7 linked regions of the Homo sapiens genome follow. The protein of the gene in region 4 purifies or fractionates together with the protein of the main gene of each other region. This does not show direct contact. Each region holds a gene or a part of one and is shown on either strand. Other genes may lie near its edges.

Region 1 (3,500 bases), on a different chromosome or scaffold from region 4:
AAAAAAAGATGAAAGTTTTAGTGAAGAAACTGTGGTTTAAAATAGGTTATTGAAAAACAAAAGAAAATTCTGGCACAAATATGAAAGGTAGATTAAAGCAGCAGATCTGAGAGTTTTGAGAGTACAAGATTATTATTTAAAATCCTCCTGAGAGAGAACTCACTCACAGGGTTAATACAATGAATAATAGATCCACATTGTTAATAAAAAAGTATTTAAAAAGCATCTTTCAAGTTAAACAGTCAAATCTTCTTTAAGACCTATTTTTTTCAGAAAACATAAATTTGACTCCTAAATTTATCAGGTCTGTACAGTAGTCATGCCAGTTTACAGTTAGGCAGTGTAATCTCAGATTTCACAGTGTAAGCAAGCATTGGTCCATTCAACACTACCTTTATTTGTTCCCTCAGAGGCCCAGGTGACAGTAGTATTACTACAAAAGCAGGTATCCCATATTTTAAGAAACCATATTGTTGGAAGTCACTGTACTTAGAAATACCAAATATTCTTATAACTAAAAACACCACATACGATTTGGAATAGCTGACACTGTCCTAGGAAAAATTTAATAGAAAATAGCTTTTAAAAATATGGCAAAAAAAAATGTGCCCACAGTTTATTTGGACCTCTCTGCCAAAAATATTTATTAATTTAGATTACCATAAGCTTTAGTAAATTACAAGCTATGATTCCTAAATAAACCTTAAGGTGTAGCCAACAAGACTAAGTTTTGGAACAAACAAAAACAGGTTCCCAACAGTCTTGAGATGAACCTGCTTTGAAATTAATTTTATTATAAAATATATTTTAAATGCAGATACAGGCTATTTGCTATACTGTTATAAATGAAGCAAAAAACAACTGCATTTCAAAACTGGTCTTAAAGAGGAAAATTATTAAAGGCAGGTAATTCACGTGGATATGGTATTAGATAAAATAGTTCCAAAAGTCAGAGTAGATTGGTGAACTACACAAACGGTTATTTAACATTTAAGTGAGACAGCAGTAACTTCTGTTTTAATGCATAAAATAGTAAATTATCAATTAGTATGCTATCACTAATATTCTTGGAAGATCTACTTGCTGTTTTTGAAAGAGCAACTGCTTGTTAACTAAAATTAAAGAGAGCTATCTATCCACTAACTTATGTCCTTTTAGTCTGAAGGAATATCCGATCTTTTCTTCTAACAAAGAGCTAGACTAAAGGATAAACACACACTACTGTAAGGATACAGCATGCATTATTTTTATGAATATAAACTCTGGTGTCTAAGTCATTTGAAAATGGCAGACATTAAGACATGAAAATAAAAGAACATTCTCTAATAGTTTACAGTGCTTAATAAGTAACTTAAGTAACCACAGATGGATCTTCTGAAAGACTGGGCATACATAGATAACAGAAATATTTTCAATTTATCAGTTCTAGGATTGTCACAAAAACCATCGACATCAACAAATCAAACTTTGCTACTGATTTAGGTATCTCTACCATGTAACTTTAACTTAGTTATAAATGCAATGTCAATGTTTCTCAAAATGCAGACTACTGTAGCATTTGGCCCCACCTCAAATCTGCTGAATCAAAATTCCAGGGGCAATGCCAAGGAATCTGCACTTTCAGTAACTCCCCCAGGTGATTCTTCATGCACATTAATGCTGGAGAACCACACCTTTCTTGTGAGATTTATAACCAGGTTTTGGATTTCAGGAACTAAAACCTCCTCATTTGGAACCTTTTAAACTAAATTTCATTACAGAACAAATGAATATTTCAAAGAGATTTAGGTAATAAACATGTTATAGTATAAAAACAAGTGCATAAAAAGTTACAGCAGAAATTTAAAGAAGAAACTTTTAGTACAGCACATTTTATTTTTATTCAAGATTTAAGACACCCCTAGGCCAACAGTTCTTTGAAATCAAAATTCCTAACTTAAAAAAATCCACAATATTAAAAATATAGTATTTCAGATACGTTCACATTCACTCAGCTGTTAAGTAAATCAAAACACAAACTGTTTGTATTACACCAAATATAAGTAATGATTAAATTTATAAAGCTCAACCCAAACAAACCCATTCATATTTCTCTATTAAATTTACTCTGATCAAAACTGATTTTCCATACATAACTTTCATAAACTTACATAAACGTGTATAATGAGAAGAGCAATGAGCAAAATCTAGAAGCCACCTAAAGTCCAGTTTGGGCTAAAAAAGCTGCTAGCTATATGACCTTAGGGCCTAGACAAATCACTTTGCCTACCAGAAAAAAAACAAAAAACAAAAAACAAAAAAAAGTACAATTGTCTGCCTTACTCACCACACAGGATTATTGTGAGAATCAAATGAGGTCATATGTAAATACATTCTGAAAACTGTAAAGTAGTTAATAATAATACCTGTGATTTCTGAAGACAGCAAAATTTGAGAGACACTATCTTTGGGCACCTGCTGTAAAATACACAAACTACCACCAGAAAAATTAAAATGTATATGCCACTAAAGAATCAACGAAGAACATAAAAACTGACCATTCAGATTTAATTAGATATTGGACACTATTGAGTATACCGTATTCTGAAAAATACAAATACAAAAATTCGATTCGATTACCTGTCCTATGTCCCCATTTATAACAGAACCATTTCTTGTGTTAAGATATAAATGAAATGTGATGGACCACGAGAGTTGGTAATTGTCAAAACTGGCCAGTAAGTATATCATTCTCTCTACTTTCCTATGTTTGATAATTTCTATAATAAAAAATTTTAACAAGACAACAATATATGTGGTATGTATAGATAACATTTCTAAAAGCTAAAAAGTGAATTTTTTAAAGTTATTTATCTTTATGAAAATTATTCCCATAACCATTGTATGTTATTTTCCTGGCAATGTCACCTCAGATTCCACCTAGTCCCAAATAAGCTACTATTAGTACCTTTATTACATATCATGACAGCTACTAGAAAATAATTATTCCCTTCCATCTGGTCAATACTCTTGCCCGAGATGCAAAAACCTAAATGTTTGTTTCTGCTTTCTGATCCTCAGTCCTTTTATTGTTTTTTGCTCATCCATTACAAAATTCCAGAATAAAAAAGTGAAAACATCAATTTTACTGTATTCATGTGTAAAATGTAAGGGAAAAAAACCAAATATTATTTTGTTCAATATTACAGAAGACCAATAGTTATAAGTGGCCGTTCCTTTTAAAACTCATTTCCCATGGTAAGAGACTGTTGCATCTGAAATGAAGTTAACATGTCTGTCAGTCAAAGGAAATTAGTAAATCTTACTCTGAAATCAAGGAATCTATGAAAGTATATATAACAACATATAATTACTCTACATGCAACAATCTAATAGCTCAAATAATGTCCTTTATCCCGGGGCCATATTCCATAGTTCGACAGAGAACACATAGCAGTAAGGGGATAAAACACCTTTCATCTCAGAGTTTTTGGCTAATTTTAGTTTAATAAAGACTTATC
Region 2 (3,500 bases), on a different chromosome or scaffold from region 4:
TATAATTCTTCTAAGCTGTTGTACTTGCTTAAAGGTAAAACAAGAACATTTTAAGAAACCAAAATAATTATTTTAAAGCCCTAAAAACAAATAAATCTGAGGATGTCACTTGAATCTCTTGGAGACTTTTTTTCTTTCTTAATAAAAATATGAAGTTATTCTCATGGTAGGATTTACTTTATAATCTACCATAAAATTATGAAATATAATTAATGTCTAGGATAAAACAATTTGAAGTTATGTGCAGTTAAACTACTGGTGGCATCAGCTTAGAGCAAAATTCCCTAGAGCAGTTCAACTGGGCCTTGGTTTCTGCCCAAACCAGGAAGCACTGCCCTATTTTCAGGACACAGATAGTATGATTAAGCCAAATAAATCTTGCCTAACAAGTGGTCACCCATGGGATCAGGTAAGAAAACAAGGATAGATTAACAGGAATCTATCACTGCTACAAAAACAAAGCATGAGGCTTGGCAAGAGTGAGCCCAATCAATACAAAGGACAGTTAGTTATGGATCCACAGCCCGACACTGACAAATCCTGTTTCCATACTCCTCACAGATTACAAGAGAGCTCTCATGATATATTCCTCATGTGATATCTTCTTGAAATATCATACCATTTGTTTTCTTTTAGCGTTACACATAGAAATATTTATCAATATATGATTTCTAGGATTCGTTTCAAAATAATGTGGTGAGTATAAGTGAAATAATATTGGCCATTCATTCACAATTGCTGAAGCTGGGTGATGGTACATAAAATTTCTTACACTACTTTATTATTGTATGTGTTTGAAATTTCCATAGTAAAAAGTTGAAAATGTAAACATCATGAAGAAATTACTCCTACAACTCGACAACAAAAAACTCAATTCAAAAATGAACAAAGAACATGAATACACATTTTCTCTAAAGAAAATATCAATGGCCAATAAGCACATGAAAAGATGCTCAACATCGCTAATTATTAGGGAAATAGGGATCAATACTGCAATGAGATACCACTTCACACCCATTAGATGGCTACTATCAAAAAAACAAAAACAAAAAAGAGAACATAACAAGTATGTTGAGGATATGGAGAAATTGGAATCCTTATGCATTGTTGGTGGGAAAATAAAATGGTGAAGCTGCCATGGAAAACAGTATGGGAGTTTCTCGAAAACTTAAAAATAGAATTGCCGTATGACCCAGCAATTCCATTTCTGGGTATATCCAAAAGAACTGAAAGCAGGGACTTGAAAGATATTTGTAGACTCATGTTTTTTATAGCAGCATTACTCACAATGACCAAAAGGTAGAAGCAAACCAAGCATCCGTCAACAAATGAATGCATAAACAAAATGTGGTACATATATAAAATGGACTATTATTCAGCCTTAAAGAGGCAGGAAATTCTGACACATGCTACAACATGGATGAACTCTGAAGACATTATGCTAAGTGACATATGCCAGTCACAAAAGGACAAATCCTGTCTAATTCCACTTATGAGAGGTACCTACGGTAGTCAAATACATAGAAAGTAGAATGGTGGCTTCCAGGGGCTGGAGGAGGGGGAATGGAGAGTTATTGTTTAATGGATATGGAGTTTCAGTTCTGCAAGGTGACAAAGTTCTGGAGATGGACTGGTTCCACAACAATGTGAATGTACTTAATGCCACTAAACTGTATACTTAAAAGTGGTTAACATGGTAAATTTTATGTGTATTTTACCACAATTAAAGTTTTCAAAGGAATAATTTACCCATCTTCCTAATATTTTTATAAATTTTCTTTGATCACTGACCATGTAGGCCACAAATACAGCATATAACTTAAGAAACTTTGACATTTAGGTTATGTTGGCATTCTGTGATATAACTTCTTTTGAAACTGAAAAATAAGCAAAAAAGCCACATAAGCACTATTCATTCCTTCCTCCAGGATCATTACTTCATCTAATAATTTAACATGAATATGGTTTGACCTATCAGAGATGAAATTCTTATGCTCATCAAAATATTCCTCCATAATCCTGAGAGAATTTATCCAAAAGTATACCATTCCAAAATCTGCACTATAATGTCATCAAACTATCATACAGAGTATTGGTGATGCTCACAAGTGGGCAACTTCTTTAGCAGGTAATGAGGCAAGTCCAGAACTAAACATTCTGTAATCTGTTTGAACCTACATGGCAGTGTCATCATCACCCACTTACATTGAATTCAAATCCAAGTATCCCAAAATACTTGAAATGAATTGGCAAAATTCATGCACACATCTACCGCAGAAGATCTGCGTTCATCTATGGATGAACGGGAGTTAACGTCCTCAGAGAGAGAAACACGCAACAGGTTTCTCAGCACTCAGTATGGGCCTACTTAGGTCTTTCTAAAATAGTGCTTCCATACTGTCTGAGACAGTCTCAGTTTCAAAAGGCAAAAATGAAAAAAAAAATAAAATAATGCCAGGGGAACCTATAAGCCTAGCCTCTTTTTTTTTTTTTTGGACAGAGTCTCACTTCGTCGCCCAGCCTGGAGTGCAGTGGCGCGATCTCGGCTCACTGCAATCTTCACCTCCCGGGTTTCTCCTGCCTCAGCCTCCCGAGTAGCTGGGACTACTACAGGCACGTGCCACCACGCCCAACTAATTTTTTGTATTTTTAGTAGAGATGGGGTTTCACCATGTTAGCCAGGATGGTCTCGATCTCCTGACCTTGTGATCCGCCCACCTCGGTGCCTTTTTTTTTTTTTTTTTTTAAGACAGTCTTGCTCACCCAACCTGGAGTACAGTGGCGCGATCCCAGCCTACTGCAAACTCTGCCTCCTGGGTTCAAGTGATTTTCCTGCCTCAGCCTCCCAAGTAGCTGGAGTTACAGATGTGCACCACCACACCGTGCTTTTTTTTTTAAACAGAGTCTTGCTCTGTCGCCAGGCAGGAGTGCAGTGGCACGATCTCAGTTCACTGAAACATCTGCCTCCCAGGTTCAAGCGATTCTCCTGCCTCAGCCTCCTGAGTAGCTGGGACTACAGGTGCACGCCACCACGCCCAGCTAATTTTTGTATTTTTAATAGAGATGGGGTTTCACATGTTGGCCAGGATGGTCTCAATCTCTTGACCTCGTGATCTTTGTGATCTGCCTGCCTTGGCCTCCCAAAGTGCTGGGATTACAGGCATGAGCCACCTTGCCTGGCCATTTTTTGTTTTGTTTTGTTTTGGTTTTTTTTGAGACAGTCCCACTCTGTCACCCAGGCTGGGGTTCAGTGGCACAATCTTGGCTCACTGCAACTTCTGCCTCCCAGGTTCAAGCAATTCTCCTGCCTCAGCCTCCCAAGTAGCTGGGATTACAGGTGAGTGCCACCACACCTGGCTAATTTTTGTATTTTTAGTAGAGGCAAGGTTTTGCCATGTTGGCCAGGCTGGTCTCGAACTCCTGACCTCAAGTGATCCGCCCACCTCGGCCTCCCAAAGTGCTGTGATTACAGGTGTGAGCCACCACACCTGGTTGAGCCT
Region 3 (3,500 bases), on a different chromosome or scaffold from region 4:
GTAATCCCAGCACTTTGGGAGGCCGAGGCGGGTGGATCACTTGAGGTCAGGAATTCGAGACCAGCATGGCCAACATGGAGAAACCCCATCTCTACTAAAAATACAAAAATTAGCCGGGCGTGATGGTGCGCACCTGTAATCCCAGCTACTTGAGAGGCTAAAGCAGGAGAATCACTTGAACCCAGGAGGCGGGTGTTGCAGTGAGCTGAGATCACGCCACTGTCCTCCAGCCTGGGCAACAACGAGACTCCATCTCAAAAACAAAACAAAACAAAACAAAAAGGATACAGGACTGCATCAGACACCCTATCAGCAGCGTCTACACAGCAGTGCCCTGCCATGTGACAGCTCAGGTGTTAGAATGAAGCCACATGGGAGGGTCCAGAGCCAGCCTAGCCCAGAAGTCCTGGGCTCCATATAGGAATTGGCATCTCTAGTAACAGCCCCATGAGCTTGTAGAGGTCTCAGCAAGGGACATGCTCAGGAACAAGAAGCAGCACTCTCGGGGCAGCGCAAAACCTCCCGCAGGTATCCTGTCCTCGCAGTCCAGAATGAGTTTTCCAGTCTGAGGTCACTTTTTAGAAGCCATGTCGCCCACCTTTAACACAGCCGGCCGTCCACCTTTATCGGGTTTCCACAGAAAAAGTGGAAGACAGTTGCCCAAGGCCTTTCTTCCCCAGAGGAGAAAGGGCTTTGCTGACCCTTCAGTCCTAGTCTCTGACCAGCTGACAGCACAGCCCTGGCCCCCCACTGTCCAAGCATGCCTTGATGTCTTGGGGATTCACGTCACTGCTCAGAAGAGGCCCCCACGAAAGGCCAGGCATCTCCCCTCTGATTCCCCCACCACTGCCTTCAGCCCAGCCCCACTCTCTCACTTGGCAGGCGAGAAGATGTTCCAGATCGACAGCGGGAGGAACGCGCCCCTGCATTCGCCACCCTCAGAACATTACACCATCATCTTCAACACCTTCGTCATGATGCAGCTCTTCAACGAGATCAACGCCCGCAAGATCCACGGCGAGCGCAATGTCTTTGACGGCATCTTCCGGAACCCCATCTTCTGCACCATCGTGCTGGGCACCTTTGCCATCCAGGTAGTGAGGCCCCCACCCTAACCAGGCCCGGGGTGGGCAGCAAGCGGCTGGAGCCCCTGGGCAGGACCCTGAGAGCCCAGCCCTCTGTGCTGGTCCCTGATGGCCTCTCTCTCTCTCTTTCTCTGCTCCCCTGTGACCTCCAGATAGTGATCGTGCAGTTTGGAGGGAAGCCATTCAGCTGCTCTCCACTGCAGCTGGACCAGTGGATGTGGTGCATATTCATTGGGTTAGGAGAGCTCGTTTGGGGCCAGGTAAGTTCCTGGTAGGTCGCAGGAGGTGCCTGTTAGCAGGGCAAGGGAGACAGCACTGGATGGAGAATCCAGGACCCCCAGGAATGGGCTGCCAGACCCCAGGCAAGCTCCTCCCTATCTCTGGACATCTGAGCAAGGGGGTTTGTCCCAGGTCCTATACTGGTCGTCTGGGTACTACTGCTCTGATTTTTGCCTTATATCTATCTACCACTGCTCCTGTTGTTTATGTAATATTTTCTCTCAATCACGTCAGCTTTTTTAACTTAAATTTGTTTTTAAAGGCAACGTCCTGTTACTAAGACAACTGAAAAATCAGTATCACTTGTCATAAATGGAAGCTAACAAAAACATTAATGTAATGAGAATGACATTATTAAACTCCAGCTAGAAGCCATGGCCTGCCAGGGATTCAAGGCTGGAGCAGCTTGTTAGGAAGGGAGATGAATCAGTGGTCTGCGGGCGCTGGTGGCCGGCTGGCGTCAATCAGGATCCTTTAGAGCACTCAGAGGGAACGCAAGCAGGACACACTCTGCCACATTGCGGTGTTACTCAGTGCTGTGCCTGTGGCCATCTGTGGCCTCAGTGCTGTGCCTGCCCCAGCTCTGGGGCTCCTTGGGCTGGATGCTCTTTAGGGGCCCTTCCAGCTTTGTCCCAGAATATTCTCCCACCAATTCGTTTTTCTACGTTTGCCCAAGTTCCAGACCCTGTCACAGCTCTGAGAGCATGCAGCCCAAAGGCTCCTGACCCAGGACACAGGGCTTGGGAGGAGGGCCCAGAACCAACTCAGGGCCTAAGGGGCCTGATTCCCAAGGTGCTCACACATCCAGGCAGTGGGACCCCATGGGTGGGAGGCATTTTTCTTGCCTTCAAGCTGTCTGCAGGCTAGAGTGAGAAGCTACGGGGGCAAAAATTAACTAAAAGATAAATAAGAAAGTTTAGTTTCATCCAAAAGGACTTCCTGTAACCTTTGGGGCTGCTTTGGAGAGTGATAAACCCCTGGGCACCCTGGGGGCCAGGCCATCTTTATCCCACTGGGGCCCACCCCCTACAGGAGGCTCTTGGGGGCTGGGCCCAGTAACTGAGGGAAGGATTCAGAGGACAAAGGTTAATGCCAGCGGGCAGTGCTGACTTTACACTCCCAGGGAGCCCCCTGAGGCTGCATTCATGCCAGCGCCTGACTGCTCCTACAGGAAATGGAAGGGGCCTCTGATATCTGCCACCGCAGCTTTCCTGTAGGGCCTGCGTCTGGGTCCTCAGCCCCATGGACAAGCCTTTTGGGGAAGATTAGGAATGAAGGCATAGCTCTTTCCCATTCTGCCTTCCCAGTCCAGGATTGGCTGCCTTCAGGGTCCAGTGACCTCAGGAGGAATAAGGGACAGAGGAATAAGTAACCCCAGGAGAACCGAGGGCCAGCCACGGGCCAGGCTCATGCAGGACGAGTTAGACCCTCCACCGTGCCCAGTTCTCACCATGCCCAGAGCGGCCCCCACTTTACAGCTAGGAAAACCAAAGCTCGGTGAGGTTAAATGACTTGCCCGAGGCCACAGGACCAGGGTTGTCTGGGGTATTCAAAGCCACATCTGTCCAACTCCTAGAGGCCAAGATTGTCCACTATGTACCCTGACTCTGAATGAATGAATTAAAAAGCAAATTGCACTCCAGCCTGGGCAACAAGAGTGAAACTCCATCTCAAAAAAAAAAAAAAAAAAAAAAAAGACATTGTCAAAGACTGGGCTGAGGAACAGGTGAGGTGGGTGAAGGAGTAGATTGATCACATGCCTGGGTGAGCGGGTAGGAGGAGGGAGGTAGAGGAGCGGGTGTCAGGGAGAGAAGGCCACTGGGAAGGACAGCCCCACCGTCCTGACAGACAGGGTCCCTTGCAGGTCATCGCCACCATCCCGACCAGCAGACTCAAGTTCCTCAAGGAGGCAGGCAGGCTCACACAGAAGGAGGAGATCCCGGAGGAGGAGCTCAACGAGGACGTGGAGGAGATCGACCACGCGGAGCGGGAGCTGCGGCGGGGCCAGATCCTGTGGTTCCGAGGCCTGAATCGGATCCAGACACAGGTACAGGAGGCTCTTGGGGGCTGGGCCCAGGCCTGGCCGGGGCGGGCCAGGGGATGGAGGTGAGTGTGCTTGTGCTGCCCCCCAGGGCC
Region 4 (3,500 bases):
TATACACAAGTGAAATTTCCTAAAATAAAAATTATTATTTTATTAAACACCACCTTGTATTATGGTGTAATTTTTAAGGGATTTTTTTTAACTGCAAAATAAAAGGGAGGTAGAAAAAATTCTGTTAGTCCAGGCCTTTGGCAAAGAAATAAAACCAAATGCTAATAAATTCAAAATATAGTCTAAATGGTTCAACCCTATTTTGAATCTGCTTACAAATGCTAATAAATTAGCAAACCTTTAATCATACAAAACAGGTTCTTATACTGATAGTCACATTTATGCCAACAACTCGCTTGGACTTAGAGGCAGCAATGATTTTATAAGCCTAGAACAGATGTATGCATTATTTAGAGAGGTGACCAGAAAACAAGTTGAAAGAGAAAAAAAAAAGGCAAATTTCTTTAAAAATTCTTTAGATACAATAAATATTAATATTCAGAGTTTCCACATTGACAACTAACATCTTAGACAAAAAGGGTGGAGCTACACAGTGGGTTTTGTTTGGATGGAAACTTCTTTGACAGAGGTAATACCGAACAGTGCCAGGAGGTGAGGCAACAATCTCCTTTCCTCCAAACACACTAAAGGTAGCCAAACTACCAAGTGGGTTCCTCTGCCCAGCTCAGCTGGTCAATTCTGCCTTTTTAACCTCCAGGTCAGCTTTTTCTCTGGCCTCCCTCCCCTTTCCTTGGCCTTTTATAGACTTTGTGATGTGGCACCTGCTCTTGTGTCATCTATATTCTTCCCAGGGTTTCTAAAATTTTTGAACAATATGAATATCACCTATGTCAAATAAAAATTCTTAATTGCATGCACAGTATGATTGCAACTTTGTGGAAATTACATATATGTGAACAGAAAGGAGGGAATACAACAAAACGAAACAGTTTTGATAGGGTAGCAGGGTTGTAAGTTGTATTGTATTGTTTTGTTCATTTTTAAGATTTCCCTTAAGGAGTTAAGGCTGCAGTTACAATATTTAAAGTTTGGTTTTAAAGATAAGTAAAAACAAAACAAAAAATTTTTTAAAGACTGAAATGTATGGGGCAATAAGGAACTAAAAAACCTCTCATGTTGACAAATGGCTATATAAATAATCTGCTTCTCAACAGTAAACCAGTCAGTAAACCAGTAACTGTGAAAAAAAGTCCACTGAAAGAAGCATTGCTGCTATATGTTATGTTGTCTACATGTCTGACATAAGCCTTGGAGCCCTACATGTATGGCTGAGGTTTTTGTTGTTTGCTGTTGATTTAAGGAAAGAAAGCCAACTATAAAATTTAAACGTTGTAAAAAAAAAAAAAAACTGCTGTTGACCAAAGGAAAATATTTAAGCTAATAAGGAAATACCTGATGCCTATGAGACCATGAACATTCCAGGAGGATGAATTCTAAAGTTAAGGTTGGCAATGGTCTCATTGATATGACACCAAAAGGCACAGGCAACCAAAAATAAACAAGTAAGACTATATCAAACTAAAAATTTCTGTACAGTAAAGGAAAAAATTAACAGAGTAAAAAGGCAAGCTACAGAATGGGAAAAAATATTTGCGAACTATACCTTGGTAAGGGGTTTATCTTTAAAATATTTTAGAAACTCCTACAACTCAACAGCAAAAATCCTATTAACCCAATGTAAAAATGGGCTAAAGACTTGAATAGACATTTCTCCATTCACAGAAATGGCCAACAGGCATATGAAAAGTTGCTCAACATCCCTAGTCATCAGGGAAATGCAAATCAAAACCCCGATGACATATCACCTCACACTTGTCAGGATGGCTGTTATCCAAAAAACAAAAGACAACAAGTGTTGGCAGGGCTGTGGAGAAATTGGAAACTCTGCATACTGCTGGTGGGAATATAAAATGGTGCAGCAGCTCTGCAAAACAGTATGGAGGTTCCTCAAAAAATTAAAAATATAGGCCGGGTACGGTGGCTCACGCCTGTAATTCAGCACTTTGGGAGGCCAAGACGTGCAGACTGCTTGAGCCCAGGACTTCAAGAACAGCCTGAGCAACATGGCAAGACCCCATCTCTACAAAAAAAAATACAAAAAATTAGCCAGGCATGGTGGCACATGCCTGTGGTCCCAGATACTTGGGAGGCTGAGGTGGGAGAATCACCTGAGCCTGTGAGGTGGAAGTTGCAGTGAGCCGAGATCATGCCATTGCACTCCAGCTTGGGCAACAGAGCGAGACCCTGTCTCAGTAAATAAATAAATAAATAAATAAATAATCAAACTGTCATATGATCCAGCAATCCTACTTCTGGCTAATTATTCCAAAGATTTAAAATCAGGATCTCAAAGAGATATGAGCCCTCCCATGTTCACTGAAGCATTATTTACAATAACCAAGATGTGGAAACAACCTAAATGTTCACTGACAGATGAATATGTAAAGAAAACATGGTACATACACACAGTGGAATACTATTTAGACTTTTTTAAATAAAAAAGGGCATTCTGCAATATGTGACAAGGTGGATGAACACTAACGACAATATGCTAAGGGAAATAAATAGGCACAAAATTTCAGTTAAGCAAGATGAATAAGCACTGAAGATCCACTGTACAACACTGTACACACAGTCAACAATAACGTATTGTATACTTAAAAATTTGTTGGGCCAGACATGGTAGCTGACGCTTGAAATCCCAGCGCTCTGGGAGGCTGAGGCAAGCGGATCACTTGAGCCCAGGAGTTCTAAACCAGCCTGGGCAACATGGTGAAACCTGGCTCCACAAAAATTAGCTGGGTGTGATGGTGCCCACCTGTAGTCCCAGCTACTTAGGAGGCTGAGGTGGGAGGATCACTTGGGCCTGGGGGGCAGAGGTTGAAGTGAGCTGTGATCACACCACTGCCCTCCAGCCTGGGCAACAGAGCAGACCCTGTCTCTAAAAAAAAAGAAAAAAATCTGGTTAGAGGGTAGCTCTCATGTTGTATGCTTACCACAATAAAATAAAAATCATTAAAAAAAAAGTCAGGGAGCTCATTCTTCCCCCGGCCTACGTAAGTATGGACGGATCAAGGTGGTACCAAAGGAGAGAAATCACAAACAAGGAGTCTGGCCTAAATACAGCCTTCTCTTCCTCTTCCTCTAATGCAGGAAGAGGGATCAGGTGGCAAGGTGTCAGGCTGAATTGCAAAGGTCAAGTGGAAATGATGTGACTGGCTGGGGCTGAGAAAACAGGCCTAAGGCAATGGAGACTGAGCTTTGCAGTAGCAGCAAGAAGAGGGACTCCCCCAGTTATTGCCAGGGTTCTAGGCAGAGTTACAGAAAAGGTAGTGTTCCTACCAGAGCTCTCTGACTAGTCCCTAAGTATCCAGGTCATCAGGTGACCCTCTTCCTAATTTATTCTGTAATTATGTTCTCTATGTGCCCGATGATCCAAATCTATTACCATCACCACTACTCCCAACCCTCAATCCAAACTAAGAATCACTATAGTCATCCCAGATAGATACTGATCCCAAAGCAGCAAATGACAAGAA
Region 5 (3,500 bases), on a different chromosome or scaffold from region 4:
CTGGACTACCGTCTCTCGCCCCTGGGCCTGGTCCCCGGCTTCTCCTGAACCTTCTGAAATGCCCATCAGAATGGGGAGACCTTTGGGGTGGGGGTGCTGGCCCCAGGAGACTTCTCCCTGGGGCCTGGTCTCAGGCCATGGTCCCATCTGTGGGACCCATGAGCCCAGCTCGGCACTGGAACCACAGCTCGACCCAATGCATCACACCAGTGCGGCAGGGACGGGTGTGGTTTAACCTCCACAAAAACATGACGTAGGACCCCATGCGCGGCCAGCACCGCTGAGAAGCGCGGCATCTCCCCCAGAGGGAGATCAGCTATGGGAGGAGCTGCACCCATGCCCAACAGCCTGAGGATCGCCCTATGGCGCAGGGCTGCTCCCTGGGCGGTCATGGACTCCAAGAGGCGCTGCCCGGAGGGGCGGGGGCAGCTCTCGGGCGCAATGCGCCTGAGTCCCGGGAACCCAGGAAGTCACCTGAGCGGCACACTGGAAGGGGGGGTCCCACCCACTCCTGTTCACAAAAAATCACAAGAGCAGAACCGACGTGGCGTAAGCCCTCCCTGCATCTCACGTTTAACCCTTGCCAACCACCCCCTGCCTTGCCAAGGGGGACAGGGGACAGGGCTTCCACAGCCAGGGCAGGCCTGCTCCCCTCGTCCAGGGCCCTGCGGCCCCACCCCCAGTCAGGCGCCTCGCTCTCGGCAGGAGAGGCGATGGATGCCCGATGCCCACGCAGGTGGGGCACTACTATTTGGGAGAAGCAACTTTAGAAAGGACATGGCACCCCCGAGTCCCAGCCGGCACCCCCGCGTCCCACCCGGCACCCCTGGGCCCCACCCGGCACCCCCGCGTCCCACCCGGCACCCCCGGGCCCCACCTGGCACCCCCGCATCCCACCCGGCACAGGAGCTGCACGCACGTCCTTCCACCGGGGCCTCACGCGCATGACACCCAAAGCAGAAGGTACCAGGACCCTGAGCCCCGTCGCGGCCGCAGGGCTGGCTGTGGCTGGAGGTCTCACTCAACTTTAACTCTAGTTAGGGCTCACTAGGCGAGTATTTCTCACAGTCAGAGCAAACTGGTATTCACCGCAAAGCCGCTGCCCGTCCAGAACACGCCCAGCTCCCGGCGCCAGAGCGCCACAGCGCAGCTCGTCACCAGCGTGCAGGGCACCAGGTAGAGGAGAGCGGGCTGGCCACGCTGCATCAGGGCCAGTGCCACGAATGTCACAAGGAGGCCAACGCCATAGGCTGTGGGGACAGAGGAGGCATCACCTCAGCCAGGCAGGCCAGGGCCACCACCCATTTCCCTGGGAAGAACGTGAGCGGGCTGGGGTTGGTGGAGGGCAGGGGTGTGCGAGGACGGGAGAGGTACAGTGGGGGTTCAGCCGGCAGGGCCACAGGCTCCCCAAAGTACATGGATCCTTCCGGCACCTCCTGGGCCACAATCCCACCCTGACCCTACCGGAGCCAGGGTCACCGAGGACATGGAAGGGCCAGGGCAAGGAGAGGGACAGGGAGGGGCAGGGTCCGGGCAGCTGCAGGACAGCGGGAGGCAGACGTGATAGCGGAGGGGGCTGCGAGACGTGTCTGGGATGCAGTTTCTATGAACCTCTGAGAAAATCAGCCGAAGGTGACACATGTGCCTGACCAGAAAACCCTTGAACACTGAGCTGTGGGCATATAAACTATGTTCTCAGGAGACACCCAGTGAAATGTTTGGGGTCAAAGGGCACGGTGTCCACCCACCGGGGCCGTGCCCCCAGTCCCCTGAGAACGCAGCCTGTGATTTACATACGTGTGCATGTAAATACACAAACGCACACATGGCCACCCTTGGCACCCGCAGGGGAGGGCTGCCAGGACCCCCTTGCTCATGTCCCTGACGTAAACTGGTGCAGTGTCTGCCTAGAACCCACCCGCGTCCTGCCAAACCATAAATCACCATAGGTTCCTACAAACGCAAACGTGATGTCGCCGCAGGCAATGGCTGTCGCATGGCATTGCTTCGGGAAAACTGGCCCAAAAAATCTGCATGTGTTCAGTACAGATAAGAACACAAATCTTTTCCCCAAATATTTTCAACCTACAGCTAGTGAAATCCACAGCTGCAGGAACCCATGGCTAGTGAGGGCCAACTGCAGTACACGGGGGAGCGTGAGTGTGTGTGTGGAGAGAGAGAGAATGGAATCAAGCGAATGAAAGCGTGAGTGTGTGTGGAGAGAGAGAACGGAATCAAGCGAATGAGAGCGCGAGTGTGTGTGTGGAGAGAGAACGGAATCAAGCGAATGAGAACGCGAGTGTGTGTGGAGAGAGAGAACGGAATCAAGCGAATGAGAGCACGTGAGTGTGTGTGTGGAGAGAGAACGGAGTCAAGCGAATGACAGCGCGTGAGTGTGTGGAGAGAGAGAACGGAATCAAGCGAATAAGAGCGCAAGTGTGTGTGTGGAGAGAGAACGGAATCAAGCCAATGAGAGCACGAGTGTGTGTGGAGAGAGAACGGAATCAAGCGAATGAGAGCGCGTGAGTGTGTGTGGAGAGAGAGAACGGAATCAAGCAAATGAGAGCGCGAGTGTGTGTGGAGAGAGAGAACAGAGTCAAGCGAATGAGAGCGCGTGAGTGTGTGGAGAGAGAGAACGGAATCAAGCGAATGAGAGCGAGTGTGTGTCGAGGGAGAGAACGGAATCAAGCAAATGAGAGCGCGTGAGTGTGTGTAGAGAGAGAACAGAATCAAGCAAATGAGAGCATGTGAGTGTGTGTGGAGAGAGAGAATGGAATCAAGCGAATGAGGGCGCGAGTGTGTGTGGAGAGAGAGAACGGAATCAAGCGAATGAGAGCGTGAGTGTGTGTGGAGAGAGAGAACAGAGTCAAGCGAATGAGAGCGCGTGAGTGTGTGTGGAGAGAGAACGGAATCAAGCAAATGAGAGCGCATGTGTGTGGAGAGAGAGAACGGAATCAAGCGAATGAGAACACGAGTGTGTGTGGAGAGAGAACGGAATCAGGCGAATGAGAACACGAGTGTGTGTGGAGAGAGAGAACGGAATCAAGCGAATGAGAGCGCGTGTGTGTGGAGAGAGAGAACGGAATCAAGCGAATGAGAACACGAGTGTGTGTGGAGAGAGAGAACGGAATCAGGCGAATGAGAACACGAGTGTGTGTGGAGAGAGAGAACGGAATCAGGCGAATGAGAACACGAGTGTGTGTGGAGAGAGAGAACGGAATCAAGCGAATGAGAGCGCGTGTGTGTGGAGAGAGAGAACGGAATCAAGCGAATGAGAACACGAGTGTGTGTGGAGAGAGAGAACGGAATCAGGCGAATGAGAACACGAGTGTGTGTGGAGAGAGAGAACGGAATCAAGCGAATGAGAGCGCGTGTGTGTGGAGAGAGAACGGAATCAAGCGAATGAGAACACGAGTGTGTGTGGAGAGAGAGAACGGAATCAGGCGAATGAGAACACGAGTGTGTGTGGAGAGAGAGAACGGAATCAAGCGAATGACAGC
Region 6 (3,500 bases), on a different chromosome or scaffold from region 4:
TCTTTTGGCTTCCCTGGGCCATACTGGAAGAATTATTATCTTGGCCCACACATAAAATATACTAACACTAATGACAGCTGATGAGCTAAAGAAAACAAAAAAAAAAACCTCATGTTTTAACAAAGTTTACAAATTTGTGCTGGACCAGATTCAAAGCCGTAGGCCACCTGCGGCCCACAGGCCACGGGTTGGACAAGCTTGATCTAAAGTGTAATCTTATTTTGAAGTTACATAAATATTAATACGTATGTATATCATAGGTTTGTATTTACAAAAAAACTTATAAATGTTCACATCCTTTGACACAATTCTTATGGGCCTTTAGTTAGAAAATACTGTGCACAAAAATATATGTACAAATATATTGATCACATCATTATCATAGTAAAACACAAAAACAATCTAAAAGCAAAAAAAAGGGAATAAACTCAGCACTTCCCAAACTTTCCTGACCTTGAAGCATTTTAATTTACAGTATACTTTTAACAGCCTACAGAATATTACAATTCTATGAAAATCAGTTTTAAAAATCCTGGTGCAGGAGGCGGAGGCTGCAGTGAGCCGAGATTGCACCACTGCACTCTAGCCTGGTGACAGAGCAAGACTTCATCTCAAACAAAAAAAAAAAGAAAAGAAATCCTGGTGCAGAGGTTATTACAAAACATGAAAAATTATTATGAAATCGTGTGTGTGTGTGTAGAGAGACAGAAAATAGTCCCATTTTTTAGGGAGATTAGAAGAAAAGTTTTAGCAGCAGTAATGTCTGGTGATTATGGTGATCTTTATTTTCTTTAGGCTTTTCTGTATATAGTAAAGGAAAACTCGTGGCAAGGAGATAAGTAAGGTTTTCCTTACTGATCAACTATAGTTATAGTTGTTCAAGCTTAAAAGGCAATAGTTATGATAGTGGCAGTAATTTGACAGAGGCAAAACACTAGAAGAACTAAAAACTCTCCATGAAAATAACTATGAACCACAAAGTAAAACATATTTGTGAAGTAGTAAAGAACTGTGCTCAAGAGCCCAGACCGCACAAACACCTGGCGATTCAAATCAACTCCAGCTCTACCACATACTATATAGTTAAATTTCTGAGACTAGTTTTCTTCATATAAAACAAGTTGTGAAGATTAAATAATATATATAAAGCACAACCCCTGGCAATTAGTAATTACTTAATTATGTACAATTAGAATGGAATGGGGATGGAGGACTGCAAACTCAGTTACTTAGAAAGTACAAAGAACATGACTGAATAAAGAGACCCAGGTGTGGATTGCAGCAAGCTGGACAATGTCCTCTTCCATCTATCTGGGGAAGACAGCTTAGCCCTTATCAACTGTTGCCATGTAAAATGTGGGCCTGCTCTTGCCACATCTTTTTCAAGAGGGCAGAAACGTCCGTTTCTATATATTACTTCCATCTTTGAAAGGATTACAACTCAAGTTTTACTAAACAAAACATATCTGGCAAACCAGTTTGCAACCGCTAAACATTTTACAAAACATACTACGTTATATGAATGTTCAGTTACTAGTAGTCTGTATAGGCATAAAGTACTCAAAATAGTTTCATTTTGTTTTTATGTACAAAATATTTCAAAATGAAATCACTAAAAACACTATATTTTCTATATAAGGTTGAATTCTGGTGTGACCAATGTTTTGGAAATGGCTTTCTAATAGAAATATAGGCCAGGTCCACATGGTGGCTCACGCCTGTAATCCCAGCACTTTGGGAGGCCAAGGTGGGCAGATCACGATGTCAGGAGATCGAGACCATCCTGGCTAACACGGTGAAACCCCATCTCTACTAAAAATATAAAAAATTAGCTGGGCGTGGTGGTGGGCACCTGTAGTCCCAGCTACTCGGGAGGCTGAGGCAGGAGAATAACGTGACCCCAGGAGGCGGAGCTTGCAGTGAGGCGAGATCGCGCCAATGCACTCCAGCCTGGGCAAGAGAGCAAGACTCTGTCTCAAAAAAAATAAAAAATACAAAATACAAAATTACCCAGGCGTGGTGGCGCATGCCTGTAATCCCAGCTACTCAGGAGGTTGAGGCAGGAGAACTGCTTGAACCTGGGAGGCAGAGGTTGCAGTAAGCTGAGATCGCACCACTGCACCCCAGCCTGGGCAACAAGAGCGAAACTCCATCTCAAAAAAAAAGAAAAAAAGAAAGGTGATTGTACTTGCCAAATCTAAATGGACCAGGATGAACAAATTAAGTCTCCCTCCTGAGTATCTGAACTTGCCATACTGAATCAGTTATATGGGCATGGCACTGGAGCTGTACTGGCTGTGTGGATTCAGAAGCTACTGGCCATTGGGTACAAATGCAGAGAATGAAGGTAACAGAAAGGAAAACAGAAGACAAATGCAGAGTAGAAATGAGAGAGGATGCAATGTGAGGCAAACCAAGACATACAGAGACAGAGAGGCAGACAGGCACATACACGGAATAGCATGTTTGTTGTTTTAACCTGCTATGTTTTGTTATGCAGTAAGATAATTAATACAGTGGGTGCCCAGGGCTGGCAAAATGGGAAAAGGGAGAGGTAATGGCTAAAGGGGATGAGCTTTCTTTTGGAAGTGATAAAAATATTCTAAAATTGATTATGGTGGTGGTTGTACAAATCTGAAAACCTTGAATTGTACACTTCAAATGACAATTATATGGCATATGAATCATATCTCAGAGCTGTTACAAAAAAACATTCTATAAAGTCACTTCTGAAATCTTACATGAAATTTTGATTATGTCAAAAATTAAGAATCAAAAAGTTCTTGACAAAAATAACTAATCAAGAGAATGAAGGTGACTTCAGGTAAAAGCAGATTAAAAAGACTAGACAAGAAAAGGTATCTACAGATATAAGAACTGTTAAAGAAGTAGTAAGGCTGGGCACTGTGGCTCACGCCTGTAATCTCAGCACTTTAAGAGGCCGAGGCGGGCAGATCACCTGAGGTCACGAGTTCAAGACCAGCCTGGCCAAGGCGGCAAAACCCCATCTCTACTAAAAATACAAAAATTAGCCAGGTGTGGTGGCTCATGCCTGTAATAGCAGCTACTCGGGAGGCTGAGGCAGGAGAATCGCTAGATCCTGGGAGGCAGAGGCTGCAGTGAGCCACTGCACTTCAGCCTGGGCAAAAGAGTGAAACTGTCTCAAGAAAAAAAAAAAAAGTAGTAAAACTGCATTTGCTGGTGATATTGTTGGATATTTAGAAAAACTCATAAGAGTAAATGGAAAAATTACTATAGATAGGAGTTTAGTAAAGTAGCCAGATTATATAAAATTAAACACCAGTTGTCATATACAAACAAAATACACATGTTAAAATACTAAAAAGTTAAAATATAATTGAAAAGACCTTTACAACAGCAACAAAAAGAACAAAAAATACCATGGCAAAACCTATATGAAAAGTTTAAAGTCTCTTGAAAGACTTAAAAATAGACTTGAATAATAGAAAGATATTTCATTCTTATATACAAAGTCTCAG
Region 7 (3,500 bases), on a different chromosome or scaffold from region 4:
AGGTGGAGAACAATGGGATTCAAAATCAGTAAATTCGATTTGGACCAGATTATAGATTTTGTTACCAGGCAGAGACTTTTAGACTCTTTCCTTTAGGGAAAAGAGAATCAGCCTAATGAAAACAGCAAAGCCCATTTCATTTTTGTGTCCAAATTAAGGGCTTAATAACATTTTTATGTTCTTTGTGAGTATGTTTTAATGTGTATATAATTGCTTGTTTTTACATGGTTTGGGATTTGTGACAAGTCAAAAAAGGAAAAAATCCTAAATGTTAAATTTTGTGTCCCAAACTCCCAAACTTTTACTGGAGAGTTCCCTAAGATCCTCTGTTTAGAACCCAGTATTATCATTTTTTTAGAAACTATGTGTCTTTCAAGCAGGCACGGTGGCTCCTGTCTGTAATCCCAGCACTTTGGGAGACAGAAGGATTGCCTGAGGCCAGGAATTCTAGACCAACCTGGGCAACATAGTGAGACCTCATCTCTACAAAAAATATAAAAATTAGCCTGGCATGGTGTCACATACCTGCAGTTTCAGCTACTTGGGAGATTGAGGCGAGAGGATTGCTTGAGCCCAGGAGTTCAAGGCTGGAGTGAGCTGTGTTTGTGCCACTGTACTCCAACCTGGGTGACAGAGTGAGACCCTGTCTTAAAAGAAAAAAAAAAATTCTTCTGAGGGGTAACTACCACAGACTGGTTTTAAAATATTAAGCATCTGGCCAGACGCAGTGGCTCACATCTATAATCCCAGCACTTTGGGAGGTTTGAGGCGGGCAAATCACTTGAGGCCAGGAGTTCGAGACCAGCCTGGCCAACATGGTGAAACCCCATCTCTACTAAAGGAAAAAAAAAATTAGCTGGGTGTGGTGGCATGCACCTGTAATCCTAGCTATGCTGATGGGAGAATCTCTTGAACCCAAGAGGCAGAGGCTGCAATGAGCCAAGGTCACACTACTGCACTCTAGCCTGGGTGACAGAGTAAGACTGCCTCAAAAAATATAAACTAATTAAATTAAATATTAAGTATCATTGTCTTATGAAAACAATCAAGAAATTTAAATATAATTTGAAGAGTATAACCTTTCAAGCACAGTTAAAATTAGATACTATCTCAGTTCAATAACACTGACCTCAACTGAGAAAGTAAACATTGAGCACAAGCCTGACCAAAATAAAATAGGTTTATCTCCTGTTGAAATCAGGAATCTGCTTATTTGTTATTATTGCCTTTGGTAAGAGTTTTGATATAGATTATTAACTCATGAACAGTGTTTTAATTGACTTGCTAATGTATAAAACTTTTCATTTATTAGAATCGTTTCTTAAGTTACCTGTAAGGGGAGTAAGCCAATTACTGCTTTTGACTCCTAGTGGTCTTTTCATTTCTCATCTATTTAATTTGTGGATAATGTTTTTCAACCATCCTCTCTTTCTTGGAAAGCTTTCTCCTAGTAATGCCATTTATTGAATACTTACTACTTACTGTGAAAGAAAAGCTTTTCATCATATTTCTCATGTCACTGTGGTAAAAATTGGCAAGAAGTATTATCCATTGGAAATATGGCAATACATTTTCACTTATTTGTTTAATCACCAAAAATTTTATTGAATGACTCATATGTCATAGAAAGAGAGAACAAAAACAATTGTCCCTGCTTTTGAGGTCAATTTATGGTTTAGTGGCATAGGGATGGTTGGAGATGCTGGGAGTAGAAGCCAGAAAGTCAGCAGACCATTTCAGAACAATGTGATATGTGTATAAGTGTGTTCTGAGTAGGAAGGAAACACAGAGGAAAAGCACGTAAATCAGATGGGTGGTGGGAAGGAGCAGTAGGAGAGGGAAGAAGAGATGTTGGGAAAGACTTACAGGAGGTGATAACTCTTTTTTTTGTTGTTTGTTTGTTTGAGATAGAATCTCATTCTGTCACCCAGGCTGCAAAGCAGTGGCGTGATCTTGGCTCACTGCAACCTCCACCTCCCGGATTCAAGCGATTCTGCTTCCTCAGCCTCCCAAGTAGCTGGTATTACATGCACCTGCCACCATCCCCGGCTAATTTTTGTATTTTTGTAGAGACGGGGTTTCACCATGTTGGCCAGGCTGGTCTTGAATTCCTGACCTCAGGTGATCCAACTGCCTTGGCCTCCCAAAGTGCTGGGATTACAGGTGTGAGCCACTGCGCCCCGCCAGGAGGTAATAACTCTTAACTGGAATAAGAGTGAGTTAGTCTGTAAAGAGACAGGTTCTAGGAAAAAAGAACATCAACTGGATGTTCCTAATAATTTCAGTGATGTGCAACTGGAATAACCACAGATGTCTGAAAGCATCCCATCTCCTTTTAATGAACTCCAGTGTTTTAAAACTGAAGTATGAGAGCTGAACATCCAGTTACATGCTTTATTGTTTAAGTTTTCTAAAATTGTGAAATACAGTGTATCCAGAAAATTGTATAAAGCACATATATACAGTTTAACAAGTAGTTTGAAAGCCAACAGTCATGTAATCACCAATAGAACAATATCAGCATCCTGGAAGGCTTCTCTTATGCCTGCCCCTAATCACATGCTGCCCACTTCCCTGTAGTTTTGACATGTATGTATATCCCTAAACAATATATTTTAGTTTTGCCTGTTTTTAAACTCTATTTTATTGGGTTAATATTTTAATGTATTCTTTTGATCAATATAATGTTTGTGAGATTTGTCCATGTTGTTGCATATAGTTTAATCCAGTTCATCCTGATTAATATTTCATTACATGAATATACCACTATTCATTCTATGGGTTAATGCACATTCAAGAGTTCATTATGAACAGTGCTGCTAAAATTCTCCTGGTACTTGTCAGTTATCTTTTTTCAAACAATCTACTGTTATCCACTATACGTATGGGAATTATACGTATGAAATTCATATGTATTTTTAATTATAAAGTATGTTAATGCTACGCTTTTTCAAGCTGCTGATGATCCTCCATCAAGTATAGTTCATCTTTATTAGCAATAGGAGATTAGAAGTAAAAGCTTCTTTAAAGCTGGTAAAAAAAATTCACTAATCAAAAAGTTTTTTTTTGTTTTTTTTTTGAGACAGAGTTTCGCTCTTGTTACCTAAGCTAGAGTGTAGTGGCACGATCTTGGCTCACCGCAACCTCTGCCTCCCGCGTTCAATTCTCCTGTGTCAGCCTCCCAAGTAGCTGGGATTACAGGCATGCACCACCACGCCCGGCTAATTTTTTGTATTTTTAGTAGAAACGGGGTTTTACCACGTTAGCCAGGCTGGTGTCGAACTCCTGACCTCAGGTGATCCGCCTGCCTCGACCTCCCAAAGTGCTGGGATTACAGATGTGAGCCACCACGCCCAGCCCAAAAAGGTTTTTAAAATCAGTCACAGTCAGTCAGTGTCCAACTTGTTGATTATTGGCTATGAATGAAGAAAATTGGCCGCCTTAAAAAGTGACTCAATCCTAAAGCATTTTATTATAATTAAAATATTAATAGCAGGCCG

Evidence for each region.
Region 1: the proteins of ENTPD7 (region 4) and ATP2B1 purify together in Homo sapiens (affinity purification with mass spectrometry; one large-scale study listed by BioGRID and IntAct). This does not show direct contact.
Region 2: the proteins of ENTPD7 (region 4) and NDFIP1 purify together in Homo sapiens (affinity purification with mass spectrometry; 2 studies listed by BioGRID and IntAct, with this or other methods). This does not show direct contact.
Region 3: the proteins of ENTPD7 (region 4) and ATP2B2 purify together in Homo sapiens (affinity purification with mass spectrometry; 2 studies listed by BioGRID and IntAct, with this or other methods). This does not show direct contact.
Region 5: the proteins of ENTPD7 (region 4) and SPPL2B purify together in Homo sapiens (affinity purification with mass spectrometry; 2 studies listed by BioGRID and IntAct, with this or other methods). This does not show direct contact.
Region 6: the proteins of ENTPD7 (region 4) and GOLPH3 purify together in Homo sapiens (affinity purification with mass spectrometry; 2 studies listed by BioGRID and IntAct, with this or other methods). This does not show direct contact.
Region 7: the proteins of ENTPD7 (region 4) and GOLPH3L purify together in Homo sapiens (affinity purification with mass spectrometry; 2 studies listed by BioGRID and IntAct, with this or other methods). This does not show direct contact.

The regions. Positions count from the first base shown.
Region 1 is NC_000012.12:89,702,339-89,705,838, forward strand, and holds part of ATP2B1 (plasma membrane calcium-transporting ATPase 1), read right to left. Parts: intron 1-3,500. UniProt on the Homo sapiens protein: Catalyzes the hydrolysis of ATP coupled with the transport of calcium from the cytoplasm to the extracellular space thereby maintaining intracellular calcium homeostasis.
Region 2 is NC_000005.10:142,111,779-142,115,278, reverse strand, and holds part of NDFIP1 (NEDD4 family-interacting protein 1), read right to left. Parts: intron 1-3,500. UniProt on the Homo sapiens protein: Activates HECT domain-containing E3 ubiquitin-protein ligases, including NEDD4 and ITCH, and consequently modulates the stability of their targets. As a result, controls many cellular processes.
Region 3 is NC_000003.12:10,338,087-10,341,586, reverse strand, and holds part of ATP2B2 (plasma membrane calcium-transporting ATPase 2), read left to right. Parts: intron 1-882; coding exon 883-1,094; intron 1,095-1,237; coding exon 1,238-1,345; intron 1,346-3,228; coding exon 3,229-3,411; intron 3,412-3,500. UniProt on the Homo sapiens protein: ATP-driven Ca(2+) ion pump involved in the maintenance of basal intracellular Ca(2+) levels in specialized cells of cerebellar circuit and vestibular and cochlear systems.
Region 4 is NC_000010.11:99,680,009-99,683,508, reverse strand, and holds part of ENTPD7 (ectonucleoside triphosphate diphosphohydrolase 7), read right to left. Parts: intron 1-3,500. UniProt on the Homo sapiens protein: Catalyzes the hydrolysis of nucleoside triphosphates and diphosphates in a calcium- or magnesium-dependent manner. Preferentially hydrolyzes nucleoside 5'-triphosphates, with substrate preference for UTP > GTP > CTP.
Region 5 is NC_000019.10:2,349,184-2,352,683, reverse strand, and holds part of SPPL2B (signal peptide peptidase-like 2B isoform 2 precursor), read right to left. Parts: intron 1,251-3,500; coding exon 1,090-1,250; coding exon of another isoform or gene 1,069-1,089; exon of another isoform or gene 1,027-1,068; intron 1-1,026. UniProt on the Homo sapiens protein: Intramembrane-cleaving aspartic protease (I-CLiP) that cleaves type II membrane signal peptides in the hydrophobic plane of the membrane. Functions in ITM2B and TNF processing.
Region 6 is NC_000005.10:32,146,820-32,150,319, forward strand, and holds part of GOLPH3 (Golgi phosphoprotein 3), read right to left. Parts: intron 1-3,500. UniProt on the Homo sapiens protein: Phosphatidylinositol-4-phosphate-binding protein that links Golgi membranes to the cytoskeleton and may participate in the tensile force required for vesicle budding from the Golgi.
Region 7 is NC_000001.11:150,687,155-150,690,654, reverse strand, and holds part of GOLPH3L (Golgi phosphoprotein 3-like), read left to right. Parts: intron 1-3,500. UniProt on the Homo sapiens protein: Phosphatidylinositol-4-phosphate-binding protein that may antagonize the action of GOLPH3 which is required for the process of vesicle budding at the Golgi and anterograde transport to the plasma membrane.